3 separate regions of the Homo sapiens genome follow, and regions 1 and 2 are each linked to region 3. The links come from fine-mapping of genetic effects on gene expression. A gene starts in region 3. Each other region holds a variant in brackets. All regions are shown on one strand. Distances are between the middles of the regions.

Region 1 (4,243 bases), 38 kb before region 3:
AGCCTGCTTCATACCCCTTTGTAAGCCATCCCTCCTCCTCTCTGCCCATCCCTTAAGCAACCATTGAGCTCCTTTTCTCACTATATATGTGCTAACATTACATATATATTTTGAGAGGCTGAGGTGGATGGATCTCTTGAGGTCAGGAGTTTGAGACCAGCCTGACCAACATGGTGAAACCCATCTCTACTAAAAATACAAAAAGTAGACGGGCCTGGTGGTGCATGCCTGTAGTCGCAGCTACTTGGGAGGCTGAGGCAGGAGAATCGCTTGAACCCGGGATGCAGAGGTTGCAGTGAGCTGAGATTGCGCCACTGCACTCCAGCCTGGGCAACAGTGAGAGACTCTTGTCTCAAAAAAAAAAAAAAAAAAGGAAACAAAATAAATATTAGACATATCTACTCTCTTATGGTTATAGTAATTGAAATTTTAACTCTTACATCATGCTATATTCCCACCTTTCCTTTCCCCTTACCTCATCCTCCCAATAGAAAGTTATAGCATAGTTCTGGCTGAATCAATAGTCAGTGTTTACATTAGTATTACTGTGTAAATGATATCCATTGAGGAGCCAAGTAGTATATATTGATTGTTTCATGTCTTGAACAACCCTTTATTGTTAAATTATAATTTATTTAAAATTTTACTTTGTTTACTATGTACCTATCTTCAGTTTATTTCCTAAATGTCAATTCTGGCAAATGCCTATTAATATTTTCTTTCAAATGGTCAACATATCAGATAATCTTAGACGATAATTTTTCTTTTCCTGGAAACTTGCCTCATTGTCTGCCAAGTCACTTTTTAGTCACTAGCACCACCTGCTGACTCTTGGTGAAGTGGAAAGACAGAATTATGATTCACAGGGTTGATGTTCTTAAATCGGAAAATCTCCTTTCTGTGGTCTCTGACTTTGAGAATGACATTCTGGAGGAAGGAATGTGGTCCTTGTCATAGGAGTAGCGGAGAATATAAAATCACTAAATAAGGTCTTTCCTTTGTTCTGTTATCCTCTTCTTTTGTATGTTTCCTAGAAGAAGAAAAGTCTCTGTTGTAATCTTCCTTGTCATGCTATGGTCATTCTAAGCCTTTTGTCTGATCTACCAAGAAAAGAGAGAAAGATGTGCTACTCAATTAAAAAAAAAAAAAACTACAGCTTTATTGACGTATACTTGGTGTATGATAAATTGTACATATTTAAGGTGTGTCATTTCATGGGTTTTGACATATACAAATATATATATATATCCATGAAACCACTGTCACAATCAAAATGATGAACATATCTATCACCCCCATGAGTTTCGTCATGCCCCTTTGGGTTGTTTTGAGACAGAGTCTTGCTGTATCGCGTAGGCTGGAGTGCAGTCACGTGATGTCGGCTTTGTGCAACCTCCACCTCCTGGGTTCAAGCGATTCTTGTGCCTCAGCCTCCTGAGTAACTGGGATTTCAGGCTCATGCTACCACACCCAGTAGAGACAGGGCATTTTAGTGGAGACAGGGTTTTTAGTGGAGACAGGGTTTTTAGTAGAGACAGGGCTTTTTATTAGAGACAGGGTTCTGCCATGTTGGCCAGGCTGGTCTCAAACCCCTGGCTTCAAGTTATCCACCCTCCTAAGCCTCCCAAAATGCTGGGATTGCTGGTGTGAGCCACCGCATCCGGCCTACTTCATGCCCCTTTGTAAGCCATCCCTCCTTCACTCTGCCCATTCCTTAAGCAACCATTGATCACCTTTTCTCACTATATGTTTGCTAACATTTTATATATTTTTACAGTCCATGATCTGCTGAAGATTTTTAATAATTTGATATGAATGGAAGCAGATGGTATATACTCTTTTTTTTTTTTTGCGGGGCAACAGCTTTTTTCACTTGCATAATTACTTTGAGATTTATCCATGTTGTGTATATCAGGAATTAATTTCATTTTATTGCTGTGTATTCAATTATGTGAATTTACTGCA[G/A]TTGGTGTATCCATTCACCATTTCAACATTGAGTTGTTTCCAGTTTTTGGTTATTACAGATAAAACTGTTATAAGCATTTGTATATAAGTTTTTGTGCAGCACATGTTATCATTTCTCTTGGGTCAGTACCTAAGTTTGGAATGTCTGGTTTGTATGGTAAGTGTACACTTACCTTTTAACGAACTGCCAAACTGTTTTACAAAGTAGTTGTACCATTTTACATTCCCACCAACAGCACATGAAAGCTCCACATTTTCCTAACATTTTGTATTTTATTTAACAGTCTTTTCCATTTTAACCATTCTAGTGGGTATGTAGTATTTTTTCATTGTTGTTTTCATTTGATTTGTATTTCCCCAGTGACTAATGATGTTGAGCATCTTTTCATATGCTTATTTTGAGCTACCTATTTAAAAATGCTCCATTAATAATAGGGCTAGTTGGGCTGGGCATGGTGGCTCATGCCTATAATCCCAGCATTTTGGGAGGCTGAGGCGAGCAGATCACTTGAGGCCAGGAGTTCGAGACGTATCTGGTCTGCCATTTCAAATTTCTCCTGCAATTCTTTATCCTCTATTCCCTCCTCTCCACCTCTTTTAAGGACCACAGCCATTCTGCCATTCCCTCAAAGCACTGTCTCTATGCTTTCCAAAGTAACCTTTAGCTAATGGAGAAAATAATGTGTTGTAATGAAGAAAAAAAAATTGGGGGAAGAGACATATCCAGGGCTGTCTCTTCACTTCACAGAAAATATAGGTATTTTAACTCAAAACATCCTTTTGAAGAAATACTCTTTGTATTGGTTCTCTTAAAAGAGTAACTTTATCCCTCAGGTGTGGGAATTTCAAGTGAATTGAGAAGAATTTCGGCTGGGCGCGGTGGCGCACGCCTGTAATCCCAGCACTTTGGGAGGCCGAGGCGGGCGAATCACGAGGTCAGGAGATCGAGACCATCCTGGCCAACACGGTGAAACCCCGTCTCTACTAAAAATACAAAAAAATTAGCTGGGCGTGGTGGCGGGCGCCTGTAGTCCCAGCTACTCGGGACGCTCAGGCAGGAGAATGGCCTGAACCCGGGAGGCGGAGCTTGCAGTGAGCCGAGATTGCGAGATTGCGCCACTGCACTCCAGCCTGGGCGACAGAGCGAGACTCCGTCTCAAAAAAAAAAAAAAAAAAAAAAGAATTTCACAGCCAAGTGGTAAGTGAAATTCTTTGATGACACCTGTCATGTAATACTCTTCCTTCGCGCGGGCTTAGAGCTAGCCTTATTTACTTTTTTTTTTTTTTTTTTTTGAGACGGAGTCTCGCTCTGTCGCCCAGGCTGGAGTGCAGTGGCGCGATCTCCGCTCACGGCAAGCTCCGCCTCCGGGGTTCACGCCATTCTCCTGCCTCAGCTTCCCGAATAGCTGGGACTACAGGCTCCCACCAGCACACCTGGCTAATTTTTTGTATTTTTAGTAGAGATGGGGTTTCACCATGTTGGTCAGGCTGGTCTCAAACTCCTGACCTTGTGATCCACCCGCCTCAGCCTCCCAAAGTGCTGGGATTACAGGTGTGAGCCACTGCGCTCGGCTACTTCCCAAATATTTTCAGTGCGTGGTTGGTTGAATCTGTGGATGCAGAATTAGTAGATACAAAGGGCCCTACTGTAATATTTGTTCAGGGGAGTATTGTCGGGTGTCAGGGACTGAGAGGAGAGGTGGAAGATAATGGTGAGTACTTGATTAGGGCAGGGAGGACAGGTCCTCGGTTATGGAGTACCTGAGAGGGGAGGATGAGACCAGAAACAGGGAAGATATTAAATGTAAAAGTTACCTCCTTCATAATTTTGTTCAGAGCAGCATTGTTACTTTAGAGCACCCTCATCTAGAACAGCATTTCTTCTCAGTCTTTCTTCTACAAACTAGATTCCTTCAACTTTGGGCTTTCCCTCCTTTTCCAACTCTCTCTTTTTGGCTTTATATGAGAATATGAGAAGAGAGTAGTTGTTTTTTGTTTGATAGTCTCACTCTGTTGCCCAGGCTGGAGTGCAGTGGCGTGGTCTCAGCTCACTGCAACCTCTGCCTCCTGGCCCGGGTTCAAGCAATTCTCGATTCTCATGCCTCTGCCTCCTGAGTAGCTTGGATTACAGGATTACAGGCATGGACTATCATGCCTGGCAAATTTCTTGTATTTTTAGTAGAGATGGGGTTTTACCATGTTGCCCAGGCTGGTCTCGAACTCCTGGCCTCAAGTGATCCACCCACATTGGCCTACCAAAGTGCTGGATTACAGGTGT
Region 2 (4,243 bases), 29 kb before region 3:
GGAGAATAGAATGGAGGGACTAGAGTTGTGGGGAGAAATCATTTACAGGGAGCAGCCCCCATGCTTGGAATCTCAATGTGAAGGGCATTGCTAAGTGGGGGCAGGATAGAAGGGTATCAGTGACTCATCATCTGAGGTCATATTTGGCCTTGGTAAGAAAACTACAGAATAGAGGACGTAGGGAACTCCTTCTAAAACTTCATCAGGAGTCTTGAGGTAATAAGGTAAAGAGAGGGCTAAGACTGCCAGAGGAGAGACAGAGAATTAAACTTCAAAAAGCTAGAGGCCAGAGGCCAGAAAGAAATAAGACAGAAAGAGAAATGGAGATTGGGGCACCTTGGTAGGGAGAGATCCCAGCATTTGGACGAGAGACATCCAAGTAGGTGTTTGTAATTTTATAAAAGTCTAACTTCAATATAAAAGCTTATTAAAGGAATTGCAATTTCATTTTGACTTACTGTTTCCAGAGGTCAAACATTACTCTGCTATCCAATTCTCCAGCCATGATTCCCTACTCTGTGGGTCAGCTCCAGCCAGGGGGTCCTCCGTGTCTCCCCCAGGTCCCCAGGCCGGCTGCTGTCTCACTGAGGTCAGGGAACCAGAGAAGGTTTGGTATGGGGGGAAGGGGGAGTATATGGCTGGCCAGAGTACTGGACAGCTGAGCAGGGAGGGAGGTGGCTACTGAGTTGACGGTTTTAAAAATAGCTAAGTCCAAAATTCCAGGAACGTTGGTGGGGGTAGGGTGTGGGAGTTGGGGGAGTGGGGAGGGTTAGAGGATTAGAAAGAATATGGAGTATTGAGTGCCAAGTCAGGGAGGGAGGAGAGAAATATGACAGACAAGTTGGATATCCAATTCCAGCTTGTGTGACTCTGTGGTCACTGCCTACTCCAGGCAGCCCTCCAGCATTTTCAATAATGTTGAGCTCCTGGCCTTTAAAAATTACAGTGGGCAATTGGATACCTTTCATTTACCATGTTCATCCCTGCTATGCTGAATATTACATTTAGGTTCTACAGATAGTATCTAGGAGGTAGCTGACTTTGAATAAGATCCATAGCAGAGGTAGTTCATAGCCCCTCTCCTATCTTTGCAGAGTATTTCAGAAGGACGAAAAAAGCCAGCTGTCCAGAGAAGAAATCTGAGCTGTGAGTTGCTTAGGATGAGGGTTTGTTCAGTCTATCCAGCTCAGATCCTTGCAGCTGTCTATCCTCCTACCTACTCCATTTTCATTACTTTAGTTTGTACAGCAATTCATCTTCCTCTCCCTCATGAATACACAAAAAATAAAGGCTCCCGATTTGCTTGGAGAGAAGGCTAACAAAGGCAAAGAGGTGAAGAAAGAATGGAAATAGAATTCTTCTAAAGAAAGAGTTGGAGAAATAGAAAAAGATTCAAAAATATACTTTTCCTTCCTTCCTTCCTTCCTTCCTTCCTTCCTTCCTTCCTTCCTTCACTCCCTCCCTCCCTCCCTCCCTCCTTCCTTCCTTCCTTCCGAGATGAGGTCTCACTATGTTGACCAGGCTGGTCTTGAACTCCTTGCCTCAATGAATCCTTCCATCTCAGCCTCTCAGAGTGCTGGGATTACAAGTGTGAACCAACATGCCTAGCCTCAGAAAGATACTTTTATGGAATAACATAATCTTGTGACCATAAATATTGCAAAATCTCAGCACTTTGGGAGCTGAGGCAGGAGGGTCACTTGAGCGCAGGAGTTTGAGGCTGCAGTGAGCTATGATAACGCCATTGCACTCCAGCCTGGGCAACAGTGAGACCCGCCCCCCCACCCCCCTTAAAAAAGAAAAGAGATACTGCAACCAAGGGATTTAGCCATGTCATGTTTTTGCAGCCATAGGTATATCTGAGATCATCATCTTTTAGTACTTGCCAAGTGAAATTAACAGAAGGACCGATTCCAAATACGGTCACTGTATTAGGGTTCTCTAGAGGAACAGAACTAATAGGGCATATATCTATATCTGTATCTACCTCTATCTATATAGAGATCTATATCTATATCCATGTCTATCTATCTAGCCATCTAGACTGGCCATCACCAGTCTGCTTTCTGTCTCTCTAGATTTATTAATATCTATATAGATATGGATATCTATATAGGTAGATATATAAATAAAGGGGAATTTATTAAGTATTAACTTACAC[A/G]ATCACAGGGTCCCACAGTAGGCTGTCTGCAAGCTTGAGGGGCAAGGAGAGCCAGTCTCAGTCTCAAAATTGAAGAACTTGGAGTCTGATGTTCAAGGGCAGGAAGCATCCAGCATGGGAGAAATATGTAGGCTGGGAGGCTAGGCCAGTCTCTCCTTTCATATTTTTCTGCCTGCTTTTTATTCTAGCTGTGCTGGCAGTGAATTAGATTGTGCTCACCCAGATTAAGGGTGGATCTGCCTTTCCCAGCCCACTGACTCAAATGTTAATTTCTTTTGGCAACACCCTCACAGACACACCCAGGATCAATACTTTGTATCCTTCAATCCAATCAAATTGACACTCAGTAATAACCAACACAATCACTAAGCCATCTTTACCAGTTGGCTCTATTTTAATACAGAGTCTAGAGGCCCTCATAGCACTCTTCTCAGGTATATATATGACAAATATTTTTGTCAAATATATACTTCTCAGGTATATATATATGACAAATATTTCTCAACCATTAGAGGCCATATCACAAGCAGTTTCATTATAGAAATGTAAAATGCTTCTAACCAAACTATTCAAGTGACTTTAAAACATAATAATTTGACTATGACAGCCTAAGTGGGATATACTATAATGCCAGAAAATAAATGCAAAAATATTTTTAAATAGCCATATTATGGTGTTAGTGTTGGTATTGTTATTCTGAGATTATTTTAGTTATGAGATAAAACAAATGATTAATAATGTTAGTGTCTCTGAGAACCAGAATTTTTGGGGTGGAATAAAGAGATACATATTTACGATTGATGAAGTTAAGAGAAAACTCCGTAATTCTGAATTTAAATTGCAAATATAACTCTGAACTCATGGTTTATTTTATCCTTAAAATTTTCCTAGCTTTACCCTAAAAAGGCCTGGAAACAATGATCCAGTAAAAATAAACACCTCTAGTACTCAAATTGTGCTATGTAAATACCATTTTCTGTTAAAAGGGACCAACAAACAACTCCTTGGATAAGTGGCTGATTTCAGGTTTGGGGCAGGTATTGTCCAAGATAGGCAAGGAAGCTTTCAAAGAGTGTTAGGATTGTAATAAAAGAACTTAGGAGCCAACTAGAATAGTTCCCATTGGCCAAAGATGGGGCAATTTAAGTATCAAAATGGATACTATCTGCAATGGATTGAAATTCATAAAATATGTTTAAATCCATGAATTCACAATGATACTTAAAAATACAAACCCATTGGTCATTGTTGGAGAATGCTGGCAGATCAACTCATTATTTTAAAAACTGCTGGTAATTGGAAAGAATCAAGTATTTATCCTGGTTTTCTTTTGGGAACTGTATCTCAAGATGAGGGGGAAATTTCTCTTTATAGAAGCATTCCAGTAAATAATTGAAGAAGGGATAATATAATTAGAATATCAACATTTTGTAAATCCAAATGAATTAATATATCTAGGCAATGGTCAACAATGACTGTGGCAGGGCACAGTGGCTCACACCTGTAATCCCAGCATTTTGGGAGGCTGAGGTGGGAGGATTGCTTAAGCCCAGGAGTTCAAAACCAGCCTGGACAACATAGTAAGAGCCCATCTCTACGTAAACAAAAAAACAGTGGCTGTTATTCATCATGAAAACAGAGATAAACATGTTTTCCTGATCATAGAGTACATAACTCCACCTTGCATGAAGTAGCCATACCAAAAACAAACAAACAAACAAACAAACAAACAAACCAGTCTGAATCTGATTAGAGCTAACTACTAATTTACAGGAAATACAGGAGACATTAAGTGGTAACTCAAAGGTGCAAATTCAGACTTTGTGAATACTCTACAGGACAAATGACCTGGGTTCGTTCTTTCTTTTCTTTTTCTTTTGAGACAGGGTCTCCCTCTGTCACCCAGAGATCTCGGCTCACTGCAGCCTCTGCCACCTGGGTTCAAGTGATTCTCATGCCTCAGCCACCTGAGTAGCTAGGATTACAGGCATGTGTCATCACACTCAGCTAATTTTGTATTTTTAGTAGAGATGGGGTTTTGCCATGTTGGCCAGGCTGGTCTCGAACTCCTGGGCTCAAGTG
Region 3 (4,243 bases):
GCAGAAATCAGGACTTGTAATAGTTATGAGTATTTCTTCATTATTTTGAGATGAATACATTTGGGTGTATATTAACCAAAACTTTTCTTGAGAATTCTCCTCTTCCATCACCCTAGCTAGCACATTCATTAATAATTAACTTTTAGAAATCTCAATATTTAGGTTACAGGAAAGCAAATATGGAATGTGATCTATCTAGCTAAAAAAGGAGTGAACATCATTCAAAGACAAAGACTTTATCCTGTTGGGGAAAGGGTTGGCATATTTTCACTGAATGAGAAAAAGTATGATTTTCATATTGTCTTTATTTGAACCTTAAGTATGATTTTACAAGGAGGAAAAAGGAGGAGGAAGAAGCAAAAGAAGAGGAAGAGGAGGAAAAAAAGAAGAGGAGGAAGATGTACATTGATGCCACTTTGAGAAGAAGTGGACTGTGGTGGATTTGTAATGTATCAGTTTTGCCAAGCTGAATGCACATTTCCCAGATTTGCCATCTTTAGATAGCTCTAGGTTAGCCTGGGCAACAGGAGACACTTGGAAGATAGAATTCGAGTGGCTGTTACACTCTTTTGTATACTGGGAAGGGCGTTGTTACAGCTCAGGCATGATCTTCAGCTTCCCTGACCCTTGGACTGGTGGGTGTTTTGCTTCTTGATCTAACATTAAGGTTAGAAGTTGCAGGATTCCAGCAGGGTTTTGTCACATCCAATCTGGTTTAAGTTCTCATATTATTAGGAAAGCTTTAGGGTGCTTCAGGAAAACGCTTTTTAAAAAATCAAATTTGGAAAATATCAAATGGAATTATAGGCAATAAGCATAACCCAGTGGAACCATGAATCAAACCCTCTAGAGCAGGGTTGTCTAAATTTTGGCTTCCTTGGGCCACACTGGAAAAAAAAAAAAGACACTTGTCTTGGGCCAAACATAATATACACTAATCGCAATTGAACTGTACCTGTAAAGCTTGTAAACAAAATGTGTCTGTAAAGTCTGTAAACAGGCCAGGTGCGGTGGCTCAGGCCTGTAATCCCAACATTTTGGGAGGCCGCGAGGCAGGCGGAAAACTTGAGGTCAGGAGTTCAAGACCAGGGTGGCCAACATGGTGAAACCCTGTCACTCTTTTTTTTTTTTTTTTTTTTTGAGACGGAGTCTCACTCTGTCGCCCAGGCTGGAGTGCAGTGGTGCGATCTCAGCTCACTGCAACCTCTGCCTCCCGGGTTCAAGCGATTCTCTTGCCTCAGCCTCCTGAGTAGCTGGGACTACAGGCACGTGCCACCACACCCGGCTAATTTTTTTTTTTTGTATTTTTATTAGAGATGGGGTTTCACTGTGTTAGCCAGGATGGTCTTGACCTCCTGACCTCATGATCCACCCGCTTCCGCCTCCCAAAGTGCTGGGATTACAGGCGCGAGCCAGTGCGCCCGGCCCGGTGAAACCATGTCTCTACTAAAAATTCAAAAAATTAGCCGGACCTAATTTTTTGGTTGCCTGAGCCTGTAATGCCAGTTACTCGGGAGGCTGAGTATTCTCTGGTTGAGGAAGGAGAATAGCTTGAACGCAGGAGGCAAAGGTTGCAGTAAGGCGAGATCGCGCCATACACTCCAGCGGACTGTTTGCTGTTAATCCCATAGGGAAAAGAAAAGCTTAGTTTTATTTCTATAGAACAACAACAAAAAAAGATAAGAGATTAGTAGAGACGGGTTCACTATATTTGCCCACACACGCCTGAGGTCGAGCGATATTAACATAAACATAACCTATCGACGTACCTCATAGATTGCTGGGATTACAAACGTGAGAACCACGATGTCCCAAATTTTTAGTTTCAGTGAAGTTACAGATGGGAACAAAGACCTGATTCTCAGCTTACGCTGACGCCCAGTATGCGTTTCTGCAGCAAACAAAACCTATTTTTAAAACGACAAAAATACAGGGGAAAGCGCGAATGCAGTCTACCACTGCCACAAATTATACAGTCAAGTTTCCCACATTTGGGGAAACTGCAGGGGTCAGCAGATCCGGAGTGCAATGGATAAGACTCGCTCTGGAAAAACCACCTTCGTGACCAGGGTATCTCTCCTGCCAGGTAAGTATGAGTTATTGCACCTCCGCCCCGCCGGCAGCCTCACACGCTTCACCCTTTACACGCACGGTCACTTGCCCCGCGCACACCCCCCTCCCCCCCAGCCCTCCTAGCCCTGACACACAGCTGGGACTCTCAGGTCCGACCAGCGGTCCTGAACCCGCTCCCACGGCACGGGAACTCCTTCGTGGCGAAGCAGCATGTGGCGAAGCAGCAGCCCCTGCGCTGGCTCATCTACATAGAAGTCGCCCTATCCGTGATGTCACCGACAGCGCCTTTCCCAGTCCCCGTCTGCCTTTCTGCCGCTCAGCCGACCAACCCGCTGCCGGAGCCGGCAAGGGGAAGTGACGTCTGCCTCTCCCTTTTTTCTCTCCTGCTTCCCTCATCTGTTCTCTTCCAAAGAAGCTGGTCCTTAGCCTGTATTGCGGAGCAAGCTTTCGGCGACCAGCTGGACCCTGGGCACCCTTCTTCGAACAATGGCTTTTAATTCTCAGACTAGAACGTTTAGGATTACAAAAGAAACTGGTTCTTTTCACATTCTTATTCTTGTGATGTAGCATTCCGCATATATATATATATATATATATATATATATATATATATGTATCCAACTATCCTAAAAGACACTACCCTTCATCATTCCATGCCATTAGACATGTATAGGACCATGCATGGTGATCTCCTCCAGACAAAAGTAAATGCTGGTGCAGAACAGGTAAGTGTACTATAATTTGAGTACATCAGCTTTTGGGCATTTTAAACCATGGGTCAGACAAGTTAGAGCAAGAGGGCAGGTTGATAGCAAGAGGGAGTGTTTTTCTTTTAATTTTCTTTTTTTTTGTTTTGAGACGGAGTCTCGCGCTCTTCGCTCAGGCTGGAGTGCAGTGGGGCTATCTCGGCTCACTGCAAGCTCCGCCTCCCGGGTTCACGCCATTCTCCTGCCTCAGCCTCCCCAGTAGCTGGGATTACAGGCACCTGCCACCACGTCCGGCTAATTTTTTGTATTTTTAGTAGAGATGGGGTTTCACTCTGTTAGCCAGGATGGTCTCGATCTCCTGACCTTGTGATCCGCCCACCTCGGCCTCCCAAAGTGCTGGGATTACAGGCGTGAGCCACCGCGCCCGGCTTCTTTTAATTTTCAAATAGCAAAGTGATGTTTGCCACTGTCATTTCAGAATGAGGTGACAATTTGTTGTTGTTTGGTTTTGTGGGGTTTTTTGTTTGTTTGTTTGTTTCTGAGACAAGGTCTCACTGTCGCCCAGGTTGGAGTACAGTGGCATGATCAGGGTTTACTTCTGCCTTGACCTCACGAATTCAAGCAAACCTCCTTACTAATCCTCCCAAGTAGCTGGGACTACAGGTGCATGACACCACACCCTGGGGTGTGAACTGGGATTTGATGTTTTCAGTTGGCTCCCTGATGGAATAGGTTCCCTTACTATTCTGGAATACAGATTGTCTTCATGATTATGATTCATAATCATAATGATTATGACAGCAGTCCCTGCTGTCAGGCAGGGACGTTTAAGTCTGCAGAAGCTGTCTGCTGCCTTTTATTCAGATATGCCCTGCCCCCAGAGGTGGAATCTAGAGGCAGTAGGCCTTGCTGAGCTGCAGTGGGCTCTACCCAGTTCGAGCTTCCCTACCACTTTATTTACACTGTGACCATAGAACCACATACTCAAGCCTCAGCAGTGGCAGAACCCCCTCCCCCTGCCATGCTCCAGTGTCACAGGTTGATCTCAGACTGCTGTGCTAGCAGCAGGCAAGGCTCCATGGGCATGGGACCTGCCGAGCCAGGCACAAGAGGGAATCTCCTGGTCTGTCGGTTGCAAAGACAGTGGAAAAAAGCACAGTATTTGGGCAGGGGTGTACTGCTTCTCGAGGTACAGTCACTCACAGCTTCCCTTGGCTAGGAAAAAGAAATCCCCCAACCCCTTGCACTTCCCGGGTGAGGCGACACCCCACCCTGCTTTGGCTCATCCTCCGTGGGCTGCATCCACTGTCCAACGAGTCCCAGTGAGATGAACCAGGTACCTCAGTTGGAAATGCAGAAATCACCTGTCTTCTGCGTCTATCTCACTTGAAGCTGTAGACCGGAGCTGTTCCTATTCAGCCATCTTGGAAGCAACCCTCTTTTTCTTTTTGTATTTTGGTAGA

The links. PIP is the estimated chance that this variant, and not a neighbour inherited with it, causes the effect.
Region 1: its variant is the best candidate, but not a certain one, in a credible set for the expression of LINC01719 in T cells (TOPMed, PIP 0.70).
Region 2: its variant is the best candidate, but not a certain one, in a credible set for the expression of LINC01719 in amygdala (GTEx, PIP 0.51).

Annotation. Positions count from the first base shown.
Region 1 is chr1:146,012,363-146,016,605 of GRCh38, forward strand. No RefSeq gene overlaps it. Among named protein-coding and RNA genes, the nearest start is that of HJV, 7.3 kb to the right of the region's middle. The variant G/A (reference allele first, on the strand shown) is at 1,966.
Region 2 is chr1:146,021,129-146,025,371 of GRCh38, forward strand. HJV (hemojuvelin BMP co-receptor) reads right to left here and starts at 607. Exons shown (of 4, transcript NM_213653.4): 1 at 459-607. The variant A/G (reference allele first, on the strand shown) is at 2,162.
Region 3 is chr1:146,050,151-146,054,393 of GRCh38, forward strand. It overlaps LINC01719 (long intergenic non-protein coding RNA 1719), which reads left to right and starts at 2,446. Exons shown (of 3, transcript NR_125968.1): 1 at 2,446-2,798. It overlaps RNVU1-6 (RNA, variant U1 small nuclear 6), which reads right to left and starts at 2,094; the gene lies at 1,931-2,094. RefSeq lists enhancers at 1,304-2,032, 2,033-2,764 and a silencer at 1,944-2,183.